Linked DNA regions of Homo sapiens: region 1 is linked to region 2. The links come from fine-mapping of genetic effects on gene expression. A gene starts in region 2. The other region holds a variant in brackets. All regions are shown on one strand. Distances are between the middles of the regions.

The links. PIP is the estimated chance that this variant, and not a neighbour inherited with it, causes the effect.
Region 1: its variant is fine-mapped to the expression of ZNF710-AS1 in tibial nerve (GTEx, PIP above 0.99). The same link has a PIP of 0.9 or more in fibroblasts.

What each region holds. Positions count from the first base shown.
Region 1 is chr15:90,098,802-90,107,346 of GRCh38, forward strand. It overlaps IDH2 (isocitrate dehydrogenase (NADP(+)) 2), which reads right to left and starts at 3,667. Exons shown (of 11, transcript NM_002168.4): 1 at 3,475-3,667. The coding sequence starts at 3,589. IDH2-DT (IDH2 divergent transcript) reads left to right here and starts at 3,331. Exons shown (of 3, transcript NR_149130.1): 1 at 3,331-3,577; 2 at 4,579-4,651. RefSeq lists enhancers at 2,093-2,948, 2,949-3,803 and silencers at 2,338-2,387, 2,448-2,537, 3,028-3,097, 3,418-3,877. The variant T/A (reference allele first, on the strand shown) is at 3,788.
Region 2 is chr15:90,077,333-90,085,877 of GRCh38, forward strand. ZNF710-AS1 (ZNF710 antisense RNA 1) reads right to left here and starts at 4,875. Exons shown (of 2, transcript NR_146321.1): 1 at 4,107-4,875. ZNF710 (zinc finger protein 710) reads left to right here. Exons shown (of 5, transcript NM_198526.4): 5 at 2,328-4,859. The coding sequence ends at 2,497. It overlaps IDH2 (isocitrate dehydrogenase (NADP(+)) 2), which reads right to left. Exons shown (of 11, transcript NM_002168.4): 8 at 7,943-8,055; 9 at 7,669-7,766; 10 at 7,484-7,576; 11 at 5,713-7,021. The coding sequence ends at 6,934. RefSeq lists enhancers at 6,646-7,146, 7,147-7,647.

The sequences.
Region 1 (8,545 bases), 21 kb after region 2:
CCAAAGTCCTGGGAGCCACCGCACGCGGCCAGAACAGCCATTTTGGAACAAACTCTAGTAGACTCCTTGGTGTCATCCTTCATTCCTTCCCTTCTCTCACATCCAAACCACCAAAACCAGAAGCCACCCTCAGACAAGCCCACCCTTGCCATAAGTGAGTGCCTGCTGCGTATCTAGATTTTTATGTAAAATCGCCTGAATTGGAACCTTTCCCCACTACTGGCTCCTCCTTCAAAATATATCCAGAATCCAACCACTTCTTCACCATCCCCAGCGCCACCACCCAGGTCCAAGCCATCATCCTCTCTTGCCAGGTCCCTGAAGCTAGAATGCTCCCGATAAGATGGAAATCAGGTAACGATACTCCTCTCAAAACCCTGCAAAGTAAAAGCGAAAGCTCTCAAAAATGGCCTGTGAGCCCTCTACAGACCCCACTGCCGAACCTCATCCTGTCACTCCACCTGGTGCCTGCTGAGCCAGCCTTCGCACCATCCTCTCTGCTCTTCCATCATGCCCTTGGCACCTGCGAGTCCCTCTTCCCCCAATACCGAAAATGGCCTGCTTCCTCCCCTCCTCAGCGATTCCTTCAGTGAGGACTTTTCTGGCTGCCCTATACAAACTTTTGTGCACACACCTTTCTTGCCTGTTTCTCCTTAGCTCTTCTCTTTTTGGGGGGAGAAGGGGGAGGCAGGGTCTTGCTTTGTCACCCAGGCTAGAGTGCAGTGGCACAATTGTACCTCACTGCAGCCTTGACCTCCTGGGCTCAAATGATCCTCCTGAGTAGCTAAGACCACAGACATGCACCATCGTGCCTGGCTAATTTTATTTTTTATTTTTGTAGAGATGGGGTCTCACTATATTGCCCAGGCTGGTCTGGAGCTCCCAGCCTCAAGCAATCCTCCCACCTCAGCCCCCCAAAATTCTGGGATTACAGGTGTAAGCCACAGTGCCTGGCCTTCCTTAGCTCTTGTACCCATATATCATACTAGTCAACATCTATCTTGCTTACTGTCTGCCCCCTCCCACATCAGAATTTGAGCTCCTAAGGGTTTTGAAAGAGTCTCTGCTGGTTTTATTCCCAGCTCTATCCCCAGCACCCGGCATGGTGTCTGGCACAAAGTAGGAGTATACTACTTTTGTCAAAGACATAAATAAAGGTCAAGTTGAAGTCAACTCCATCTGTGGTCAGGGCTGCCCTGCCCTCACCTTCTGTTTCACTGAATGTGTTTCCTCCCCTCTCACCCATCTGGTATGCATTGCCACACAGGGGCCAGTGAGTTCTTACCAGCAGCCTGCACCAGATGTACACGGGTGGCATCTCTCTCCAGCAATAGGCCCCATGCCCTGAAGAAGCTTACAACCTACAGTGTACTAATATTTGCAATCTGCTGGTATTTTTAACATGGGTTTACAGAGTATAAACCCCAGGGAAGGCCACAGACCCTGGCTTCCAGTAATCTGAGAGCAGTTTCCAGCACCTCATACCCTGAATGGAACCAGCCCAAGGGCCCTCAACTTCACACAGAAGATGTGGGAGCAGGCCTCAGCCATTCCAAAGAGGCTTTTCCTCAGTACCTACTAGGCCTAAACACAACCACCCCAATCAGCTCTGGCAGGGCAGCTAGGGCCTTATCTGACGTGGCAGAAAGATCTGCACACTTAAGGGGCAAGAATTAAGAAGTTTCTGGGTTAGGAGTGAAGGAAGGCTAGATAAGTAATTCTGCCACTGAGCCGTTCACAGAACTGGTCCGCACTGCCCCAAGCTCTAACTTACCAGAAACATCACCAGCAGTCGCTGGAAGCCTATGGCGTTGCAAAATAGGAAAAGATGCGTGCAGGAATTACCAGGCAGCAAAGACACGGGGCTCTTTTAGCCCCAAAATATTCTTTCCTTGTCATCAAGGGGAATGCCAAGTATTCTGTCTCCAGCTGCGTTGCCAGGTAACAAGCTGGCAGAGTCGCAACTGTAGAGTCTGATGTCCAACTCCAACACCAAGCAATTTCCCCATTCATAACCAACCCACATGGGGACTTCTAGAAGGGCCTGCAACTGACTGCTTTTTCTGTATCCAAATTCAGGACCCTTAAAAGGCGCTTTGTGTTCCTGTTTGTGTGTGTTTTTCGGGTTGTTTGTTTCTTTTTTTTTTTTTTACCATCAAGGCAGAAAAAAAGGGAGAATTAAAGAATGTGGCTAACTTCCACCATATTTTTGCTGAAGGTGGTGTGCTATATGGGAATCTTTGGGTCCTGGGGCACTTGGAACCTGGGAGTTGTTGGGCAGATCCCTGAGGTAGATTCCCAGAGGTACAAAAGCAGACATGCCCCTTTCTCCTTGGCAGGGAAGGTAGGACTGGGGCCCAAGCCTCCCTACCCCCCCGGCTCTAGTCAGCTGCTCCCACAATCCGGTTAACCATTACCTCCTCTGGCCAGGTCAGGGCCAGCGGGCCCCATCCCCTCTTCCTCACTCTCCTGGCTCACTGCAAGGGGCTCCTGGCCAGATTAGGATAGGGGTTTCCATGGCAACAGGCATTAGGCAGGGCCAAGGGACCTACATTGTTCCCTGCCTTTTGTAGCTGTGTTGGGTAGCCAGGGTGAGGGGGCAGGCCGATGCCCACACGCCAAGCAAGGCAGCCTGCGTTGGCAACGGAGGCTCGGGCTAAGTCTTGCTTATTACGACCCGACTACTGTCTTCCCTCCTAAGCAGGGAACTAAGGGTACCCAGAAGCCGTGGGAACGATTCCGCAAAGTGACATTTTGCGCGGGCTGCCAGGTCTCTGCGGCGAGTGAGCCAGGCAGGGAGGGCATGTGCCTGCCAAGGCAGGTCAAGTCAAGGAGAGGCCCCAGGATGGAGCCTCAAGTGCAGCGATGAAGGCGAAGGGGTGGGGGTGGGGGCGGCCAAACAAAAGGGGAAAATTAAAAAGGACGCTCCTCCAGCTGTCGTGTAAAAGGCTCCAAAAATAGCTGACGTGGGCCTGGTATCAGCGCGCGCCTGGCTGAAAAGGAAGGGGAAGTGCATGTCTCCCGCCTCCCAGCCTTTGTCTGAGCAGGGGCCGAGCCACGACCCTCCCTCTCGCCAGGGGAGCGCGCGGGGTGCTCCAGCCCCCCACGGGTGCTCGTCTCGTTCCAGGGGCGCAGGGCGGGCAGGCCACCCTTCGGGTCCGGGACACTCTCAGGACCCCCTCCCGAAATACCTAGGGGCGCGCGGCAGCCCCGAGCCCCCGCCCGCGCAGAGCTGGCCGTCGCCCGGGCCACCAGTTGCCACCGTCCCTCAAGTCCCCACCCCAGCGCCTGGCACGGCCGGGAAGCGCCGGGCGGGGGAGCGCGGAGCGAAGCTGCCCCGCGGCCCTTTGTGCGCCTGACCCCGCCGTCCCCGGGCTGCGGGCTGGCGGGACGTGCTTCCCGGCCCCAGCCTGGGAAGCCGCCACGTCGCAGCTGGGGGCGCGCGCCTGCCTGGACCCTCCGCGCGGCACTCACAGTGGCGCCGCGGCTGCTCTTGCGAGGTGGGGGCTGTCAGGGCCGCCGGCGCCCAGGCCGGCCGCGAGCCTGAGGCTCTGCAGAGCGAGCGCACGACCCGCAGGTAGCCGGCCATCCCAAGCTGGAGAGCGAACGAGCAGGGCGGGAGAGGTCCGAGCGCGCGCCGCTCCTCCCGGCTGCCTGGCCGCGGGCTAACGCTGGGCCTGGCGGGCGCTGGCCGCGCGGGCACCACCGGGGCGGGGCTGCCGGGCCTGCCGCCCCATTGGGCCTTGCCGGGGAGGAGGCGGGGCCAGGGCCGCCGACGCCTCCAGCG[T/A]CCCGCGGGAGCCGGGACCCGGCGGCCAGGCCCGGCTGGTGCTTCTCTGGGCGCCGCTGAAAGCCCAGCTCCGCAGGAGCTACAGGCGTGAGACCCACCGGGACCCGCGAGCGGGATCAGGGCTGGGGGATTAGCAGAGCCGCTTGCGAGGCTGACCCTCTCCAGGATGCCCCATGTAAACCTGGATGTCAGTTTCTGACGCTTTAGCTTAAACCCAAAAGCCAATCTGAGCGAACTCTTGCTTCCCTCGCCTGCCGGGCTGAACCCAAAGGCGCATTAGCCCAGTGCGGCTGCTTCATTCTTGAGCTAAGACCGCCGGCGGCGTCTGCGCCTCCGCGAGTCCGCTGTCAGGTCCAGCTGGTGTAGAGAGAGTTGAAATCTCACTTTGGGCCGGGCGCGGTGGCTCACGTCTGTAATCCTAGAACTTTTGGGAGGTCGAGGCAGGCGGATCACTTGAAGTCAGGAGTTCGAGACCAGGCTGGCTAACATAATGAAACCCCTGTCTCTACTAAAAATACAAAAATTGATCGGGCATGGTGGCGCGCGCCTGTAATCCCAGCTACTCAGGAGGCTGAGGCGGGAGAATCACTTGAACCTGAGAGGCAGAGATTGCAGTGAGCTGAGATCATGCCACTGCACTCCAGCCTGGGCAACAGAGTGAGACTCCGTCTCAAAAAAAAAAAAAAAAAACCACGAAAAAAGAAATATGATTGGACCAGAAGGCCAATAACCTGAGTGGGGAAACCCAGCAAGTCCTGTCCGTGTAGATTCTTCTTGACCTTTCTCTGCAGCATTCCTTCCTTCTGAGTACGGGGCAGGACTCTCTCTGGGATGGAGGGGTCTTAGGACCTGCAAGCAAACAAGGTAGGTCAGATAATTTATGGCCAGTTTTTACCCAGAAATGTGTGGGAGAAAGAGTAATATTTTTGGGTTCGATGTCTGGCTTTGGGGGAGAAGGGCTCTGGTTTCTATGACCTGCCTTGAGGAAGAAGGATTCCAGTTTCTATGGCTGGCCTCGGAGGAGAGTGAGGGGCCAAAGACAGGAGGGAGGGAGAGGGTCAGAGAGAGCTGCTCCTGAGGCCTGCATTTTGGGGTGTTGTTTTCTGAGACCCTAGAGTAGTCAAACAGCCACAGTAGAAACAGTTCCATTTTTGCCTGTTTGCATATAAAAGATGGGTTTGTTTGTTTGTTTTAATTAAAAATAGAGATGGGGGGATCTCACTATGTTGCCCAGGCTGGTCTCCAGCTCCTAAGCTTAAATGATCCTCCCGCCTCGGCCTCGCAAAGCACTGGGATTACAGGTGTGAGCCACTGCACCTGGCCACAAAAGACAGTTGTAATTGATTCTGCCACAAACAAAGTTTCTCTCTTCATCTGTTTTCTTAAACTAAGACACCAGCTGAGGGCTGGGTTTTATTTGGAAAAACCTGACCTCTTTCCCTTCTCTGCTTTCCCAGTCACGCTAATTCACTCCAAATAGGAGCAACCTTTCTCTTCTGTGTTCTCAGCCCTCCCCTCCACTACCTCACAGTCAACATTGCCAGGTGGAGCTGGACCAGGAAGGTGACCTTCAACTAGTGACTTCAAAGCTCCCCTCACCAAGTCCTAGCCGGCAGAACTACTACTCTGGCCATGGGATCCAGAAGGCTGAGCCCAAGGGAGGGCTGCTTTTGGGCCCCCCAGAGTCTGAGGCCTCTGTCAAAGGCCTGGTCTTGGGCCAGCTTGTGCCAGAAAGACCCCTTATCCCTTTGACTCTGTTCAGAATTCTGTTGCTCCAAACACAAGTAGAGACCATGGAAGCCTCTGGCATTTGACTTTCCTGCCAACCTGGTATTATCAGGTGCCTGGATCTCAATGTCCACACCTGTAAACTGGAAGACTGGACCCCTGAAGATCCTTCTGGTCCAAACAATCAGACTTACGTATGTCAGCCACCCATACTGCCACCTCTGAAATGGCGGTAATGAAATTGCTGTCCCCCTCCCCCCACCAAGGACTTGCCCCTTTCTCTGCATGTTGGACTCATATCTCAGAGGCCTGGCCAGAGGCAGCACTGTAGGTGTGTTCCAGAGTCTGGTCTTTGCCTGCTGAGGGATCAGAGGGGGAGCACTTGTGTGCCTTGTAAGCACAGCAGCAGCTGGAGGCAATTGAGGCAAAATCTTTAAACGGATTCTAACTACCTGCCTCCCAGGGCCCCAGCTCCACGCCAGCCTTTCCCGTAAATCCTGTTTGGTGAGGCAGCTGATGCCAGCTCCATTTGGCTCGTAGAGGTTACCACACTTGCTCAATGTCACACTGCTGGGAAGCAGTAAAACTCCAGTTCAAATCAACATACCTGGCCCATATTCCATTACTGTTTTTTTGTTTTTTCCGAGACAGGGTCTCACTCTGTTGCCCAGGCTGGAGTGCAATGGTATGATCATGGCTCCCTGAAGCCTCGACCTCCCGGGCTCAAGTGATCCTCCCACCTTAGCCTCCTCAGTAGCTTGGACAACAAGAACATGCAACCATGCCCGGCTAATTTTTTTTCTGTTACTTTTTGAAGGAGAAAGAGGGAGAAACCACAGCCCCTATTTATTGTGCTGGTCTGGAATTCCTGGTGATGGTAACTATTGGCCCTGAAAGCTGCTGCAGAGAAAGATGGTGTTTAAAGGAAAGGGGCTCAGATCCTCCCATCTGGGGTCAGTGGAATTGAAAATTTCCACCCCTCCACATTTTCAATCAAACCCCAATTTGTCATTGAATTTAGGTCACGTGCAAGTTCCCTGTGGAGGCACAAAAATTTGTATCACTCCGTCCCCACCCTCTGGGAGCCAGACACACATGTATACAATCACCATAAACCCAGGCACAAGAGAAAAATGTCTGCTGGGCGTGGTGGCTCACACCTGTAATCCCAGCACTTTGGGAGGTCAAGGCAAACTCCTTGAGCTCAGGAGTTTGAGACCAGCTTGGTCAGCAGAGTGAGACCTTAATCTCTATTTTAAAAAAAAAAAAGAAAGAAAGTGTCCCAAGAGGAGTGTAGATGACGCTTGAAACATCTGGCAAGGAGAAAAGCACCTCGGATGCAGGGGCCCCTGGAGAGCCTGGGGGAGGAGCGTCCATCTAGCTGCCTCTTCAAAGAGCTCTGAGGTCTGGGGGGAGGCCGGACAGGACAGCTGGGAGCAGTCAGGGACTCACATTTCTTTTTCTTTTTTCTTTGGAGACAGAGTCTTGCTCTGTTGCCCAGGCTGGTATGCAATGGTGGGACTCGGCTCACTGCAACCTCTGCCTCCGAGGTTCAAGCAATTCTCCTGTCTCAGCCTCTCAAGTAGCTGGGATTACAGGTACGCACCACCATGCCCAGCTAATTTTTGTATTTTGAGTAGAGATGGGGGTTTCACCATGTTGGCCAGGCTGGTCTTGAACTCCTGACTTCAGGTGATCAGCCCACCTCGGCCTCCCAAAGTGCTAGGATTACAGGCATGAGCCACCACGCCCAGGCTCTTTTATTTTATTTTATTTTATTTTATTTTATTTTATTTTATTTTTGAGATGGAGTCTTGCTCTGTTGCCCAGGCTGGAGTGCAGCAGTGTGATCTCAGCTCAGGGCAACCTCTGCCTCCGAGGTTCAAGTGATTCTCTTGCTTCAGTCTCCCAAGTAGCTGGAATTACAGGCACAAGCCACCGCACCAGTCTTTTTCTTTCTTTCTTTCGAGACAGGGTCTCACTCTTTGCCCAGGTTGGAGTGCAGTGGTGCAGTGGTGCAGTGGTGCAATCTCAGCTCACCGCAGCCTCGACCTCCCAGGCCCAAGCAATCCTCCCTCCTCAGCTTCCCGAGTAGCTGGGACTACAGGTGCATGCCTGGCTAATTTTTGCATTTTTTGTAGAGACAGGGTTTCAGCATGTTTCCCAGGCTGTTCTGGAACTCCTGGGCTCAAGTGATCCTCCCACCTTGGCCTCCCAAAGTGCTGGCATTACAGGAGTGAATCCCGCGGGGACTCACATTTCATCCAGCCAACATTCCAGGGCATTCGTTTTGTGGTGTGCAATAGGCAGACAGTAACATTTGGCAACAGTGGTGAGAGGGTATTGGGATAGAGCCTGGGGAAGGGAGACAAGAGTTCCTGAGCTAGGGACAGGCCTGACACAGGGTGCTGGCGGAACCCCCAAGAGAGGCAGGACTCCAGAGATGGTATAGAGGAGATAGAATCAGCAGGAATTGTAGCTGGTTTGACATGGGGCATGGCCGGGGGAGGAGTCAGAGTGACTCAGACTTCCATCCCTGGGGCTGGAAGAATGGCACAGCCATTATTAGAAATCAGAGAATAGGAGGAGGAGAGAGTTGTGGGAGAGGCGTTGACAGCAGAGCTATTTATGGTCATCTCCAAACTTATTTCCCTGCCAGCTGTCTGTGCCCCCTCCCCCACCCAATCTGCCCTACCTGCTGCTTCCAGCACTGTCCTCCCAAAGCCCAGTCCTGAGCAGCTACTCCACAGCTCAGATACCCACAGGAGCTTCCCACGCCATACACAAGCAACTCTGAACAGCTTCTAACAGTCCATGGCCTCCACCTCCCTCTCTTCTCGTCTGCTATTTCCCCCTCCCCAGGATCCCTAAATGTAGCATTCTCCTGAATTGTCACTGCCTCGGTGCCCTCGCGTTGTCCCCTCCCTCCACCACACAGGTTCTGTACTGCCCACAGCCAGACCCAACTCACACTTGGTGGCTGCTATGGACTGAGTGTTTTTTGGCTTGTTTGTTTCTCTTTTTTTTTTT
Region 2 (8,545 bases):
TCCTGGGTTCACGCCATTCTCCTGCCTCAGCCTCCCAAGTAGCTGGGACTACAGGCGCCTGCCACCACGCCCGGCTAATTTTTTTGTATTTTTAGTAGAGACGGGGTTTCACGGTGTTAGCCAGGATGGTCTTGATCTCCTGACCTCATGATCTGCCTGCCTTGGCCTCCCAAAGTGCTGGGATTACAGGCATGAGCCACTGCGCCTGGCCCCCAAGGTGCTTTATTTAGCTTGTTTTTGAAACCAGCTGTGTAACATGAGGGTGTGGCACTAGGACTGAGGGAAGAAACAGCCCAAATCTATAAGATATGGGTCAAGTGACCTTGTTTTATAAAGTCCGGAAGACTCACAGTGGGTTAGATGCTACAGGCACAAGTAACAGATACCCATTCAGACTGGCCTAAACAATAAGGAAATCCATTAAGAAATGGCTCAAGACCAGGTGTGGTAGCGCACACCTATCGTCCCAGCTACTCGGGAGGTTGAGTTGGGAGGATCACTTTGAGTTTGAGGCTGCAGTGAGCCATGATTGCACCACTGCACCCCAGCCTTGGCAATAGAGCAAGACCTTGTCAAAAAAAGAAAAGAAATGGGGCCAGGCGCAGTGGCTCACGCCTGTAATCCCAGCACTTTGAGAGGCCGAGGCAGGCGGATCACCTGAGATTGGGAGTTCAAGACCAGCCTGACCAACATGGAGAAACCCCGTCTCTACTAAAAATACAAAAAAAATTAGCCGGGTATGGTGGCGCATGCCTGTAATCTCAGCTACTTGGGAGGCTGAGGCAGGAGAATCGCTTGACCCCAGGAGGTGGAGGTTGTGATGAGCCAAGATTGCACCATTGCACTCCAGCCTGGGCAACAAGAGCGAAACTCGGTCTCAAAAAAAAAAAAAAAAAGAAGAGAAAAGAAATGGTTCAAAGTCTAGGCCCTCTTCAGAGCTGGCTGATTCAGCTTGCCAACAGTGACATCAGGGTGAGGCTTCCTCTGTCCACAGCATTAGCTGCGAATATCCTCATGGTCACAAGATGGCTGCCAGTGGCCGTCAGGGTGTGTGCTTCCTTGTTCACATCCAGTGGAAGAGTGACAGCCTGCTCCCCTTAGCTCTCTGACACCAATGAGAAGGTGCTAAGAACTTACTAGCAGGCCTTTCCTCATGACCCATTCAACAGGATTGGGTCACGTGCCTATTCCTGAACCACTAATTGGGAAGGGATGGGATTACTCTTAGACCAGTGGTTCTCAACTGAGCATGAGTTTGTCTTCCAGGTGACAGTTGGCCATGTTTGGAGACATTTATGGTTGTCACAACTGGGGTGATGCTACTGGCATCTCATGGGTAGAGGCCAGGGATGCTGTCAAACATCCTACAATGCACAGGACAGCCTCACAACAAAGAATTATGGCCCTAAGTGCCAAGGTTGAGAAAGTCTGCCTTAGACCTGTCAGGGCTGCCCCCAGCCTGGGGTCTGTTTCCCCCAAAACACGCACATCTCAGCGGACAGGGCCAGAATGCACTTTGGGGGCCAGCCACAGCCCCTGCCAGCCTCCCAGTTCCCCCAGATCCTACCCTGGGCTTCCCCTGTAAGAGCTTTATAATGAGATTTCAATTTTATAAAATTATAAGGGGCCTCTTAGGAGTTTTTGCCTGACATATCTTTATGAACCTACCCTGAGTGTTTGTCCCTGGAGAGCCAGGCCCAAGGATACCAATGGCTAGAACCAACAGAAAAGCACAGCTGCCGGCAGGAGGCCTCACCCTCCCGCAGTGTGAGGCAGAGCAGCACAGTGGCTCAGAACAACAGCATGTGCTGGGTGACCTTTGGCAAGTTGATTCACCTCTCTAAACCTCAGCCTTCTGAGCTGCTAAATGGGGCTGTTGTGATTGCTGGATGAGGCGAGGCCTGCGAAGTGGCTGGCATGCAGCAGGTGCTAATGAGTGCTGCAAAGGTGATGTCACGCAGGCAGCTTCCCGTGGCCAGAGAAACATTGCAGAGAAGGGATAAGTAGGGCTTAGTGACTTTGACGGGTCAATGGAAGAATGACCCAAAGAAGGCTTCAAGGCCAGGCCTGCAGTTCTCCACCACAAAGGCCCTCACTGATAGCACCCACTCCCCCACACTCAGCTTTGGGGCCTAGGTCTGGTCACCCAGCTAGAAGCCACAGGACCCTGAGGCGTCCGAGGGTGGGAAGGCTGAGAGGCAGCTGAGACTCCTGGAGGCCGTGACTGGGAAGCCCTCTCTTTAGAAAGGCCATCAGCTTCCTGCGTGGGGGTGACTGGCTCCTCCCGAGAGATGGCAGCCAGGTCTGACTGTGCCCCTCTCTTACAGACCCCATGATGGAGCTGACAGGCACTGACCCTTCAGAGCTCGACGGCCAGCAGGAGATGGAGGACTTCGAGGAGAACGCCTACAGCTATGCGAGCGTGGACAGCAGCGCCGAGGCCAGTGTCCTCACTGAACAGGCCATGAAAGAGATGGCCTACTACAATGTGCTATAGCGCAAGCTGGGCCACCCCTAACGGGGGCCGGGGGCGAGGGCATGGGGGTGAGACCCATGGGCTGCAGGCTGCACCTCCTGCAGCCGAGAAACAAGCTACTGCCCCACTGTTCTGAGCCCTCCCTCCCCGAGTCATTTGCACCACTAGGGACCTTTAGACCAAATGGAGACTGTACTACTGGCCCCGGCTGTGAGCCAGCACAGGCCCAGGCATCCCAGCAAGGGAAGGAGAACACGCGAGGCCCAGATCTGGGTCTCCCTGGCCTGCTTCCGTGGGGAGTGGGAGAAGTGGGGCCACTGGGGACAGGTCACAAGGGCACCGGCCCTCGGGGTCTCTCCAGGCCCAGCAGAGCTCTTCAGGGGTCCTGACACTGGAAGAAGAGACCACTTGAGCCATGTCTTTTTCACGGCCAACTCCTGCCTCTAAGGATGTCTGAGCTCCCCTCTGGCCAGTACTGCCCACCTCTACCTTGTCCAGGCCCCCTTCCCCGCCCTGTCGACGGACCGCCAGGCAGGGCACTCTGCCTTCTACCTCCCGGGGTCTCCCATGCGCTCCTCAAGCCAGGTGTGCACGTGGCCCTGGCCCTGGCCTGCAGGACAGCTGGGGGGCACCCAGCCCCCAGAAGACCCCTGTCCTACATCCCTTTCTGGAAGTGAGTGTCCCTACAGTGGATTGCAACACATGTCGTCCACTTCGACCCTAGCTGGAGTGCCTCACCAGGGGGCCCCACTAGGAACAAAGCCAGGACAGGCCCCGCGTCAGGCACACACTAACAAAACCAGAAGCATGGGGCAGGGCAGGGCGGAGTGAGGGCATCACAGGGGACCAAGAAGGGCTGTCCTTGGGGGAGGCCCAGGACCACCTGTCGGGGAGGGGGACCGCAGTCATTTCTCATTCCTCAGTGTCCACCTTGCGACGGGGATAGCCACGAGTCAGCAGCTTCCCGGAAAGAGCAACGTATTTTAAAAAGGAAAGTAAAGCCCACAGAGGGAAATCAAGGGTTTTTTTGAGCAAAGGGGGTCTTCTGAAGGTAACTTATTATTTTTTTCTTTCCAACTGTGTGTCACCTATGACCTTTTCTGATGGAGATGCATTTTCTTTTTCCAAGCGTAAGCTTCCTAATGTGCTGTGCGTGCTTCCTACCCACCCACCCCGAGCAGCCTGGCCGGGCAGGACTGGGGCTCCATGGGGACTGTCACCCTGGCCCTGGAGGTGCAGCCGCTGGCAGCAGCCTCAGCAGGCTGGGGTGGGAGGCAGGAGAAGGCAGAGCTGGGAAGCCCTCCACCCCTGCCTGGCTCCTGCAGTCGCTGACTTGCTCTGTCCCATGTCCCATCCTCGGCTGTCAGGGCTGCTGACTCTGCTCAGCCAACAGCTAGCTCCCTCGCTCGCCTGCTCTCTTCCCCTCTGTTCCCACGCCAGCTCCTGCCCCTGGAACCAGAGATGACAGGCCCAGGGCAGTGAAATAGCACATTCAGGAACTCTAGGGCACCCGGACCCCCCCACCCACTTGCCTCCTGAGGCCTCAGTGGGGAGGGGCAAGCAGGGGTCTTCCCCAAAGGCACAGATGAAGCCACTAGCTTCAGCCTAGAAACCCGGAGAAGGGAACAGCCTGCGGTGGGAGGAACCAATCTGCAGCGCAGCCACCCCCAAGGCTGGATCCTTAAGTGAAGGACCAAGCCAGGCCTCAGGGTGACTGTGATCAGGACTGAGGGGTGGACAAGGTGGCCCAAGTATGGCTTCCAGACCCCGAAGCCCCACGACCTCCCAGGTGCCCGCCATGATGACCCTCAGGTGGCAGTGACCCCGTCACTGTATAAGACATTTTCTCCTGCTGAGCAGAAGGCATCATCCCCTGCAACTACCTCTTCCCACGTCTTTCTCCCCTGGTACCAAAAAGAACCCTGTACCTCTCCTCCTCCTCCTCCCTCCTGCCAGTGCAGTGGCCTTGGTCTTGGAAACTGAAGGGAGAAGGTCTGGCCCCCAGGGTGGGGCTCTCCTTTCCCTCCCCCAGCCCCGCCGTCAGCACTGGCCCTCTGTGAGGTTCGATACTTGAACGCCCCCTGCCCTGTGCCTTGGACCTGGGCAAAGCTAGGAGGAGGAAACAGCACAACTCACAGTTTGAGCTGGGGGGTGGTCTTGGCAAGGCTCCTGTCTGTACCCCTCCCTAACCTTCTCAAAAGAGGTGCACAGCCTCTCGGGTGACTTGGAAACTCCTGGACAAATTCCATTCTAACTTATTTTGACATGTATACAAACCAACTGTTTAGAGATTCCACTTGTGCAAAGCCCTACTGTGTTTTTATGTTCCTGTTTAAAAGAGAAGTTTACTTAGCAATAATTATAAATAAATGAATATTCTTTAGTGAGGTGACTGCAAATGCTTCTTTCCCCAGCTCTTGGGGACCTGGCCCTCACTCCCAGCAGGAACTCCCAGCAAAACTTCCCAGCCCCACACAGCAGGGCTGCACTCTCCCAGGGCCCGGGGGAGGCTGAGACCATCCTCTGCACTGGAATGGCCCCCTGCAGGGCCAGGCGCCTATAGCCAGCTGCCCCGGGCCCAAGAGAGTGGTGTGGGCCACGGCCCCTGTATTCCCACCACTTGCAGAGAAAAGCTGCTTCCCCTCCCTACCCACCCACATGGCTTCAGGAAAGAAGCCAGCTCCCGATGCCAGGCTGGGCTTCAGAGGCTGCGTTCTGCAGAGCTGCCAGCCCCGTGCTGGTGACAGGCAAGAAGAGGCAGGAAGCCTTGAGCTTCCTCCCAGGGGCTGGGCCTGCTAGAGCCAGCAGTCCACGTTTCTTCTTATAGCCCTGAGAGTTTCAGGGCATTACTCAGGAAAAGCAAGCGGGGGGTCACCAGTGTGGATGGAGGGCTAGAGCCCTTCCAAAGCCACTCAGTCTACCGCAATGGTCGGGTTTCAGGAGCCATAGGAGTCCCCCCAGTATTTAGGAAAGGGACTTTGTAAGATGGGGTTTTGAGAGATGGGGTCTCACTCTGTTACTCAGGCTGGAGTACAGTGGTGCAGTCATAGCTCACTACAGCCTCAAACTCCCGGGCTCAAGTGATCCTCCCACCTTGGCCTCCCAAAGTGCTGGGACTATAGGCATGAGCCACCACACCTGGCCAGGACTTTATAAAGATTATACAACTCTTCTCCAGGACATTTTAACACCAAAAAGAAGAAGCTTTGCAGAACTTACTATGCAGAGGACAGTCCTTTTGATTATATGTAGCTTTAGAGCAACTTTTATTTTTCCTTTTTACATGGGGCTAAAAAACTTGCATAGAGCAATTTTTTTTTTTTTTTTTTTTTTTTTTTTTTTGAGACAGAGTCTTGCTCTGTCACCCAGGCTGGAGTGCAGTGGTGCAGTCTCGGCTCACTGCAACCTCTGCCTCCCAGGTTCAAGCCATTTTCCTGCCTCAGCCTCCCGAGTAGCTGGGACTGCAGGTGCGCATCACCACGCCTGGCTAATTTTTGTATTTTGAGTAGAGATGGGGTTTCACCATGTTGGCCAGGCTGGTCTCGAACTCCTGGCCTCAAGTGATCCACCCACCTCAGCCTCCCAAAGTACAGGGATTATAGGCGTGCGCCACTGTGCCCGGCCGAGAACAATTTGTCACAAGCTTACTTTTCTAGTTTTGCCAATGCATGGTGAAAGTGAACCCAAGCCTGGGAACTGCAGGCCTAGACAATGCAGGGCCCTTGTTCACACACACCCAAGCCCCTCCAAACTCAGGCAGCCTTGGAAAGGAGAAGTGTGAGGCAGGTGTGGGTAGGACCTCTTTTTAGTACCTAGAAAAAGGCTAAGAAAGTGGCCTGGAGATGTTTAGAAGGTTAAAACCAACGAAGAAAAAAATCAATGACAACCTATCAGGAACTGATTGACTCTCAGAATGGAGAACTGGACACAGAAACTGGATCATGCTAGAAAATTCCAGGGAACCCACAGGCCTGTGCCCTGAGTGTCCGAGAACTCCGCAGTGGGCCCCTGTGGAATGCGGGCTCCCAGGGCTGCCTGGTCCCTTCCCTGCCGTGGCAGCCCCTTCCTGAGGTGCTCTGGTCTGCCCCAGGGGAACCTGCCAGCTCTAGCAGGGCCTCTGCCTCAGGGTCCCACTACCTCCTCCCCTCAGGGACAAACACAGCAGACAATTTTGTGAAGAGCTTTTTAGTAGCTAAATATGGCACCATGTGTTCCAAGGGCAATATAAATTACAGTATGCAAAACATACTGACTGGCTGAGGTAAAACGCACTGCTCCTGCCTCACGTCACCATGAGGGGAAACACACATATGCTTTTAAAAACATCTGGCTTATAAAAAAACATCCCCTAGAAAGGCCTCCAGAGAGGGGCTGTGAGGCTCACCCTCTGCCGCGCTCAGGAGGACCCGCCGGCTCAGCCCTGGCCCCTCCACTGCAGCCATGGGTGGCGCCTCCCCCTACTGCCTGCCCAGGGCTCTGTCCAGGTTGCTCTTGATGGTGTCGAGGAAGTCCGTGGTGTTCAGGAAGTGCTCGTTCAGCTTCACACTGCAGAGAGAGCACCACTCACATCAGGGGTGGCTCCAGGCCTTGCCAAGGCCATCAGCCAGGCCCTTCCAGGGAACAGCCTGAGCTTGGGCATCAGAACAGCCATCTCCTGCCACCCAGACTACAGGCCAGAGGCCAGCTATAGCCCCCTACCATGAGGCCACCGAGATTCGGCAGGCACCCGCAGGGTCTGTCTTGCCAGGTAACTGCTCTCCTGAGAGAAGCTGGGAAAGGGGTGTGGGCAGGGTCGGAAGGAGCTCTGAGTAGCCAGCCTCAGGGATGGGGAGGAACTCACTAGACCTGGTCTACAGAGGCTGGCCTGAGCAGTCTCTCAGGGCTGTGGACATGTCCTGCCCCAGGCCCCCTTGCAGCTAAGCTGACTCATGAGGGGGACTTTAGGAGGGGTCCCCTGGCTTCCTCCCACATGGCCCCAGGGTCTGCCTACCACCCCAGGCCACGCACTTGCTGAGGCCGTGAATGCAGCCCGCCAGGTCCTTGGTCATGGCTCCACTCTCCACCGTCTCCACGCACACCTTCTCCAGCATCTGGGCAAACCTATGGGGATGGGGCAGAATGAGACCCCATCTGTGCAAGGGCAGGACCCAGAGCCTGTCCTGGGCAGCTCCGGCCTCTCCCTCCATGCTCACCTGATGAGGTCTTGGTTCCCATCCAGCTTCCCCCGGTGCTCCAGGCCACGTGTCCAGGCAAAGATGCTGGCGATGGGGTTGGTGCTGGTGGGCCGGCCCTGGGGACGGGGGTTGCAGGGAGATCAAGAGCCGAGCCAGCTAGTGAGGAGGCTGCCCAGATACAGCTGCCCGCCCCTGGGCTGGTGGGTCAGGCTCGTCCTTCCAGCCCTCAGCCCAGTGGGCTTTAGGCCCCTGGGGTAGAGGGGCATTGTGAGGCCCCATGCCCTGCACTCACCTTCTGGTGCTCCCGATAGTGGCGGGTGACGGTCCCATGAGCGGCCTCAGCCTCAATCGTCTTCCCATCAGGGCAGACCAGGACGGACGTCATCAGGCCAAGGGAGCCAAAGCCTGGAGGGTAGAAAGCCTTTCTCTCAGGGCCTCGCCTCTCCTGGGGCCACCCAGCTGAGCCCTGCTGCCCTCTACAACCCAATATTGTAGCTGCCATAGTTCGTGGCTCTACTCAGCCTCCCCCAGCTGCAACTGGGAGGACAGGGACTGTTCCAGGTCTCTTCACCCTCCTGTGGGTCTCCAGGGCCCAGCACAGGGCTGGAGGGCACTGGAGGGTGGCTATCACCAGCACATTAACATCCATCTGTGTCACCAGCTCCAGGCGCCCCACAGCCTGTGGCCCACAGGGCCCAAGAGGCCACAGAGTCCTGTGGTCCCCCACAGCCTGCCACCCAGCCTGGCTCGTGACCCGGAGGCACATTCAAGGAAAACAATAAAGCTGTGGTCAGCTATTTCCCAACAATCACTTTTGCAGCTACTCTCTTAGGCCACTTTCAAGCTTTTTGATTAATTTCTGAATGCTCCCAAATCCACATGTCAACTCCAGCAA